Regions from separate parts of the Homo sapiens genome. Here regions 1 and 3 are each linked to region 2. Evidence: fine-mapped expression QTL. A gene starts in region 2. Each other region holds a variant in brackets. All regions are shown on one strand. Distances are from middle to middle. Region 1 overlaps ADAM8 (ADAM metallopeptidase domain 8). Region 2 holds the start of TUBGCP2 (tubulin gamma complex component 2). Region 3 overlaps ZNF511-PRAP1 (ZNF511-PRAP1 readthrough).

Region 1 (2,750 bases), 43 kb after region 2:
TGGCCTCCACAGAGCCCATCTGAGGACAGTGTCGAGACACAAATGCTCTCCGGCCCCCAGCTCGGGATCACACGGCTGAGGGGAGGAATGGGGCGGGGCCTCTCATCTGGGGTGGGGCCCTGTGGGCCGCGCAGACGCCTCCAGCACACACAAGAGGCAGGAACCTCGGATCCTGGAGCTGGGGGTGCTGGAGGGGCACGGGGGTCCCAGCTCTGACCCAGGCTCTCGGCCCTGTCTCCTCCAGCCTCCGGTCACTGTGTCCAGCCCACCCTTCCCAGTTCCTGTCTACACCCGGCAGGCACCAAAGCAGGTGAGCAGTGGTGATTGGGCGGCCAAGCCTTCTGAGGGTGTCCAGGCCTTCCTGATGGGATTGGGGTCTGTGCACTGCACCGGGGGCCAGGGATCCCCAGGTGGCCCCTGCTGTACACAGAAGGCTGGTTAGCCCGACCTCGTGAGGACATCAGACAGAAAGGCAGGTCAGCGAGGCCACAGGAAGGCAGGAGCTCAGTCCTGCCCTGCGTTGGAGCTGGTTTGGGGGTCCTGGCTCCTTCTCCTTCCACTCAGACCTGCTCCGCCCACCAAGCCCCTCCCAGAGCTGAAGCTCTGGCAGAGAAGAGGACTCCCTGGGGCCCTGCAGGACAGATGGGTGGGTGGGCTCAGGGCAGGGACACGTTCCGCGCTTCCCTTGGGTTTGGGGGCTTTGGGGGTTTTGGAAAGATCTCTCAAAACCCGAATCACTGGAGCCCTGGCATGCTGAGGGTTAACTCCCAGGCCTCCGTGTCCCCCCAGGGTTGGGGTCCTGTCCCTGCGCCCTGGCTCCCACCTCTGGGCTAACCTTGGAGCCCTTTTTGGACCCCGTGGGGGCAGCTCATTGGCCTCAGCCCTGGGAAACCGCTCTGGCAGTGGGTGGAGAAGGACCCTTGAGCTCCCTTCCTGGGGCCACTGACTCAGCTAGGGCAGCAGAAAGGGCCAGGCTTTCTCTCTGGGGCCTGGCACGGGGCCCCAGTGGTACCATCGAGGTCCACTTGGCATTGCGGGACATTGTGAGCAGCCTCTGTCCTCAGAGAGGGCAGGACGGTGGCGGGCAGGCTGGGGCTGGGGAGGTGCCTGTGTGAAGAGGTCCCACGGTGCATCTCCGGGGACCCCCTCCACAGAGGTTCGTGGTCAGCCCTAGGACTGGGCTGTGCATGGAAGACCTGGGGCAGGAGAGCCCCTGCCCTCTGGGTTGAGGCTTTTTTTTTGTTAACATTTAATTTTGAACAAATTTTAGACTTACAGAAAAGTTGCAAAAATAGCCTAGAGAATCCTGCATGCCCTTCGCCTGGCCTGCTCCCGAATGGCCACAGTGTGGGCGCGCAGCCGAGGCTCCACGTCACCAATGCGACCCAGTCAGTACCGCCTGCTCCCTCTGGACGCCCTTCTCCAGCCATGGTCCCCCCAGGCACTCAGCCCCCGGCCCCTCTGCCTTTCCTCAGCTTGCCCTTTGGAAGTGTGGCCAGCAGTGTTTTCAGAGTCCCTCAGCCTGGGTTTGTCCCGTCTTTCCTTGTGTGGATGAGGGCC[C/G]TGCACTGTTGGCGGGGGCAGCACTGGACACACCCTTCCCCAGGCACAGCCCAGGCCTGGCCCACATGCAGCTTCGGTCACGGGGGATGTTGACACAGCGCCTAGTTGGAGCAGCGTCCACAGATTTTTCCTTAGAAAGCTCCTGTCTTCTTTTTATAGTGAGCAGATGCCTCAGGGAGATACCTTGAGACTCTTTGAACCTTAAGCTTGGACCCACTAGTTTTGGCATCCATTGGTGAATATTGGCTGCAATAGTTGTTCTGTGCTGTTTGCCTAATAGTGATTTTCTCTCTTTTTTTTTTTTGAGATGGAGTCTCGTTCTGTCGCCCAGGCTGGAGTGCAGTGGCGCGATCTCAGCTCACTGCAATCTCCGCCTCTCAGGTTCATGCCATTCTCCTGCCTCAGCCTCCCAATGTATCTGAGACTACAGGTGCCCGCGACCATGCCTGGCTAAATTTTTGTATTTTTTTTTTCAGTAGAGACGGGGTTTCACTGTGTTAGCCAAGATGGTCTTGATCTCTTGACCTCGTAATCTGCCTGCCTTGGCCTCCCAAAGTGCTGGGATTACAGACGTGAGCCACCATGCCCGGCCCTAATAGTGATTTTCTATTTCTCTCTTTCCTTTTTAACTTTTTATTTGAACTAACTTCAGACTTGTACGTGAGTTGCAGAAATAGTCCTAGAAGGGGTCTGGACAGGCAAAATGGGGGCCTGAAGGGGGCAGAGAGATTTCTGGCCAAGGAAGTTATGGTTACCAGGCATAGCAGTATATGGGGCAGAGGCTGCAGCAGGAGCCGGGCGTGGTGGTAGATGGGGCAGAGGCTGCAGCAGGAGCCGGGCGTGGCGGTAGATGGGGCAGAGGCTGCAGCAGGAGCTGGGCGTGGAGGTAGATGGGGCAGAGGCTGCAGCAGGAGCTGGGCGTGGAGGTAGATGGGGCAGAGGCTGCAGCAGGAGCTGGGCATGGAGGTAGATGGGGCAGAGGCTGCAGCAGGAACAGGCGTGGAGGTAGATGGGGCAGAGGCTGCAGCAGGAGCTGGGCGTGGAGGTAGATGGGGCAGAGGCTGCAGCAGGAGCCGGGCGTGGAGGTAGATGGGGCAGAGGCTGCAGCAGGAACAGGCGTGGAGGTAGATGGGGCAGAGGCTGCAGCAGGAGCTGCGCGTGGAGGTAGATGGGGCAGAGGCTGCAGCAGG
Region 2 (2,750 bases):
AAGTGCTTAATAAGTCTGACCGTCTATGCATTCCGGCTAGTTGGAAACCTTTTCCTAAAATCAAAAGCAGACACGTGCTGAGCCTGGCGGCTCCCTACCTTCTGCTTTTCTTTGGCTTATCAAACCGGAAGTCCGCGGGGTACAGGTGCATCCTCACCATGTGATCCTTCCGGTCTCTGCTGGTCTTGAACTTCTCTGTGCAGCCTTCTACCAAGCACTGATACTGAAATGGAGACCGTGTCACCTCCCTCTGACCCCTGGCCCTCCCCCACCGCCATGCCCCCGTAGCAGAGCTGCCAAGGGCGGAAAGGTGTCCCCGGCCTTGCCCGAGCACCCGAGAGCTGGGGGCAGCACTCTGAGCCCATCACCAATGGGGGGTGGCCTCGGCGGCTGTGCAGTTGTCACCCACCATGTCCTGCCTCTCAGACAGGATCTGGAAGAGCGAATCGTGCCACTCCAGGATGTGGGCGTCCAGCAGGTGTCCGGAAGGGAAGGCCCGCTTGCAAAAGGAGCAAACATTTCCGTGCAGCGTGTGGTAGTGGTGCTCGTAGTCGTCCAGGGCATCGAACACCTGGCAGCAGCCGGCCACCTGGCAGGCAAACGCGGGCACCCTGCCAAGGAGACGTGCTTCAGGAGCCCTTCCTCCGGTGCGAGGAACCAAGCTGGACTTTCTGCACAGTTTCCCTTTGAGACGTCCAATAAAGCCCCTATGCATCTTTTGCAATCCCAAACCCTCTTTTTATGAATTAAGTTTCACAAACAGGCTAGGTGGTGGAAGAGTCGGCCACGCCAAAGCTGGACAGGCACAGCGCCTCGGTGGGGCGGCCGCACATGGAAGAGCGGCAGCACAGCCCCAGGGACCAGGCACCGGTCAGGGAGGCGGCGCAGGAGTAGCACTGGCTAGGCACTGCCCATTCGCTTACCTGGGCTTCTCAGGCACGTCGGCCACCTGCATGATCACGTCCTGGAGGTAGAGGTGGCGCTGCACGTCCCCATCCTGCAGGAAAAGTGCGCCGTGGGCGGGGCCAGGTGACTCGCGGCACGCCCACCGCGTCAGGCCTCGCCCACACCCGTGGCCCCAGTCATCCCGCGCTCCGGTCCCGCCCCACAGCCTCAGGCCCCGCCCACTCCACGTTCCGGCCCCGCCCCACCACCTCAGGTCCCGCCTGTCCCAGGCTCCGGCCCCGCCCCGCAGTCGTAGGCCCCTCCCACTCCAGGCTCCGGCCCCGCCTCGCCGCCGTAGGCCCCACTGGATCCTACAACTACTTTTTCCCTCTTTTGCTCACGCACCTCGAAGAACTGGTGCTCCCGCGGGAAGCGCACGGGGCGCGCAACGAAGCGAAAGGGCGCGGCCCCAGCCGCGGGATCCCGCTCTACAGGCAGCGGCTCCGCCGCCCCGGGCCCCGCAGCGAGGCGGGCGCACAGCGCGGGGGGCAACTGCATCACCCCGGGCGCGGGCGGGCGCAGCCTGTCGGCCACCGTCCGCGAGCCGAGCCGGACGTGACGTCACGCTCACTTCCGCCGCCGTCGGGGGCTGCGCGGGGGCTGTGGCTCCGGGACTGCGGTGAGTCCTGGCCGAACGCGGGCGCGGGCGTGATGAGGGGGTTGGGGGACTGCCAGGCCCGGGGGGGCCCACGAGGCGACGGGGCTGGCGGGACGCGGCTCTTCCCGCGCGCTCCCTCTGGCTGTGCAGCGGTCCCCGAACTCTGGGGCCGAAGCCCTTCGGGCCTGCACCGGCCAGGCCAGCGTCTTGCCCCGCGGCCCGACACTCAGCCGGGGCGGGGCGGAGCGGGCCTCCGGGTCGTCCCGGGTGTCCCCTCCCAGCCCTGGGAAGCCGGGTCGCAGGTCCCCCTCTCGCACGCCCTCTCCCGTCCGCCTTGCCCCGCCTGTCGTCTCCCGCTGCAGTCCCTGGATCTTGTTCCCTCTAAACCAGTCGCGAACTGGAGCCAAAGTGACTCCAGTTTTATTGTAACCGTTTTTAATTTAAAGCCCTTGGGTGACTTCCCGTTACTTTAGTTCAAAGGCCCTTTCCTGGTTTGTCGGGGTCCTGTCGACCTCTCCAGTCCCCGCAGCTCCCGTGAAACACAGGACCTGTGCTAGGTGCTCAGGGCGTGTGGGGGAAGGCATCACAGGAGGGCGCGGCAGCCTTGTAGGAGAGACAGACGTCAGAGTAAAGAGTCACCTAATTAAAATGGTGAATGACAACACACGCGGGAAGCAGTGGACGCTTCAGATCTACTGCAGAGAATGGGCCCAGTGGCGGATAGAGGCTTTAGCTTTCTCGTCTGTCACCCAGGCTGGAGTGCAATGGTGCGATCATAGCTGATAGATCGCTGCGGCCTCAAATTCTTGGGCTCAAGTGGTCCTGCTGCCTCAGCGTTCCAAAGAGCTGTAACTGCAGGCGTGAGCCACCATGCCTGCCCCTGTACTTTTTCCATGTTTAGATACACAAATATCTCTGTGTTACAGTTGTCTAGTGTTCAGCACCGCCACCTGCTGGGCAGGTTTGTAGCCCACGAGCAAGAGGCTCCTCTAGGTGGTTTAGGTGCATTGTAGGCCGTACACCATCCAGGTCTGCGAGTGACTCTGATGATCGCACAGAAGGAAATCATGTAACCATACGTTTCTCTTTTTTTCTTTTGGAGATAGTGTCTCTCTCTGTCGCTCAGGCTGGAGTGCAGTGGCGCGATCTGGGCTCACTGCAACCTCTGCCTGCTGGGTTCAAGCGATTCTCGTGCCTCAGCTTCCCA
Region 3 (2,750 bases), 36 kb before region 2:
ACAGACTCTGACAAGAAATAGTCCCTTTTATTGATTCTATCTGCATATACTTGGTCTCCACAACACCTTATCTTAACCCTGACTTTCCCTTCTATTGATTCTAGGTCTTTAGATAATAACTTAACTCTTTTGACCAATTGTCAATTGGAAAATTACTGAATCCACCAATGACCTGGACACCCGCCGCCTTTCTGGACCAAACCCATGTACATCTCCCACGTACTGAGTGATGTCTCGTGTCCCGAACATGTATCAAACCAGCTGCACCCCAACCCTCTCGGGCCACACATGTTCTCAGGATCTCCTGGGACGGCATCATGGGCCTTCCGTCACTCATATTTGGCTCAGAATCACTCTCCAAGTATTTTACAGGGTTTCACTCTTTTCCTCGACAACCCCCAGCGGGCAGCTACTGTTGGGGGCTCTGAGACCGCCGGCCTGCAGGGTATGGTTCTCCCGAAGCTGCATGTTCAGACACAATTGGAGGCCGTGCTTCCAAGGGGGTGGAGTGAGGGCCCTCAAGAAAGGCCAACTCAGGAATTTCCAACGTGACCCACAGCGTCTGAGCTATTGAGGAGGGGTCACCCGAAGAAGCCGCTGGGCTTGGGTGAGAACAGATGTTCCTCTGGCCTTCTTGCCTGGGGCTGCTCCTGAAACCACCTTTGCGAAAACCTGATAGTGAATCTGACCTAACCGACTCCACCTTGCTTCTAACCTCCAACCTGTCCTTGTTCATTCCTGGGTGTAGGTCACACCAACTTTGGGAGGATCTTAGTTTATAGTTTAATGTTGAAACAAAGATGAAAACAGCCCCTTCCTGAACAAACCCCCTTCTTGCCTGGGGACCAGACTGCCTTTGTAAAACTAACAAATTAGTCACAAGATTAGAAATTATGGTTTAGGAAACTTCTAGTGGCTTGAGGTATCGGCCGGAGCGGCCGGGTGGCGGGAGGAACCGTTACGGGAACTGAAGTTGCCGATTAAGCCTGATCAAGATGCCAACCTCCCAAAAGCACCGAGACTTCAGGGCAGAGCCCATGGGGGAAAAGCTAGTGGGGAGCCTGGCCAGGATTGGTGAAGTCCTGGGCAAGAAGCTGGAGGAAAGGGGCTTTGACAAGGCCTATGTTGTCCTTGGCCAGTTTCTGGTGCTGAGGAAAGATGAAGACCTGTTCCGGGAATGGCCAAAGGACTCGTGGTGCCAACACCAAGCAGTCCCGGGACTTCGGATGCCTT[C/T]GAGAGCATGCGATGCCTTCTTGTGATGCTCTCCAGGAAGCTCTCAATCCCCAGCCCTCACCCAGAGTTTGTAGCCGAGTCGGGACTCCTCCCCTGTCCTCTACAAAGGAGAAGATTGCTATTGTCATACTCACGTCTGACGCACTCTGGGTCTTTTGGGAGTTTTCTCCCCTAACCATTTCAACTTTTTTGGACTCTCACTCTTGCATGTCTCCCCCTTCCTTTTTCACTTTCCCTGGTGACAGTTACCAGCTTTCCTGAATGGATTCCTGGCCCCGTCCCTCACCTCCACCCTCACTTTCAGTCCATTTGATACTATTTGGCTCCTTTTTTGGCAGAACAGTCACTGTCCTTGTAAAGTTTTTTAGATCAAGAAAGTCAGTGGCTTTCATGAAAAATAAAAAAGAAATTATGTTTTAGGTGTCAGGCAGGACCGGGCGCGGTGGCTCACGCCTGTAATCCCAGCACTTTGGGAGGCCGAGGCAGGCGGATCACGAGGTCAGGAGATCAAGACCATCCTGGCTAACATGGTGAAACCCCGTCTCTACTAAAAATACAAAAAATTAGCCGGACGTGGTTGCAGGCGCCTGTAGTCCCAGCTATTCGGGAGGCTGAGGCAGGAGAATGGCCTGAACCTGGGAGGCGGAGCTTGCAGTGAGCAGAGATCACGCCATTGCACTCCAGCCTGGGTGACAGAGCGAGACTCCGTCTCAAAAAAAAAAAAAAAAAAAAAAAAAGGAGTCAGGCAGCTGGAGGCCACAAGATTCTAAGCCTCCCCAATTATTCTTAGGGAAAACATCACTATTGTAAATCCTAAGATTGGTGCTCGAGACATTTTTCGGACTCTGAACTTGGTGGAACAGCTGGTGCCACCCAGATCCATGAACTGGCTCACCTGGTCTTGTGGCCCCCACTCAGGAAGTGACTCAGCACAAGAGGACAGATTCGACTCCCTGTGATTTCATCTGCAACCCAACCGATCAGCACTCCCTGCTTCCCAACCCCTACCCACCAAATTATCCTTTAAAATTTGAGTAGTGATAAAGCTCCAGCCTCCCGTTCAGCCGGCTCCGCGTGAATTAAACTTTCCGTGTTGCAGTTTCTCTCTGCCCTGATAAATCGGCTCTCTCTGGGCAGCAAGCAGAATGAGCCTGTTGGGCAGCTACACTCCCACCCACCCCTCAGTGGCCGAGTGGCTCCACGGGGGAGGCAGCAGAAGGCCAGTGGCTCAGGGAACTGGGGTCCCCAAGGGGATTATGAGCAGTGATTGGCAGGCCAGCCCGAACTTGAATGGGGTGATCAGGTCTGGAATGAGAAAGGCACAGGGAGCCTCCCCAGGTTCCCACACAGTCCCAGCTGACCTCCCCATTCCTCTGGCCCAACACAAGTCTGTGCATTCACACTCAGGAGACGGGAGACAGCCGGTGGGAAGTAAAGGTCGGGCACCTTAAAAACTGCATCCACACAGAGCGTGGCCCCCAGCCCACCCTTGAGGCACCAGCAGAGTGGGTCCCGCG

Evidence for each region.
Region 1: its variant is fine-mapped to the expression of TUBGCP2 in whole blood (INTERVAL, PIP 0.98).
Region 3: its variant is fine-mapped to the expression of TUBGCP2 in whole blood (INTERVAL, PIP 0.97).

Annotation. Positions count from the first base shown.
Region 1 is chr10:133,264,912-133,267,661 of GRCh38, reverse strand. ADAM8 (ADAM metallopeptidase domain 8) reads left to right here. Exons shown (of 23, transcript NM_001109.5): 21 at 245-310. Among named protein-coding and RNA genes, the nearest start is that of ADAM8, 11 kb to the left of the region's middle. The variant C/G (reference allele first, on the strand shown) is at 1,561.
Region 2 is chr10:133,307,637-133,310,386 of GRCh38, reverse strand. TUBGCP2 (tubulin gamma complex component 2) reads left to right here and starts at 1,515. Exons shown (of 18, transcript NM_006659.4): 1 at 1,515-1,564. It overlaps ZNF511-PRAP1 (ZNF511-PRAP1 readthrough), which reads right to left and starts at 1,473. Exons shown (of 9, transcript NM_001396060.1): 1 at 1,291-1,473; 2 at 924-997; 3 at 410-611; 4 at 99-223. The coding sequence starts at 1,443. ZNF511 (zinc finger protein 511) reads right to left here and starts at 1,473. Exons shown (of 6, transcript NM_145806.4): 1 at 1,291-1,473; 2 at 924-997; 3 at 410-611; 4 at 99-223. The coding sequence starts at 1,443. RefSeq lists enhancers at 988-1,282, 690-1,385, 2,109-2,338 and a silencer at 1,029-1,878.
Region 3 is chr10:133,343,152-133,345,901 of GRCh38, reverse strand. All of the region lies in intron 5 of ZNF511-PRAP1 (ZNF511-PRAP1 readthrough), which reads right to left. It also overlaps the pseudogene BANF1P2. Among named protein-coding and RNA genes, the nearest start is that of PRAP1, 2.8 kb to the left of the region's middle. The variant C/T (reference allele first, on the strand shown) is at 1,234.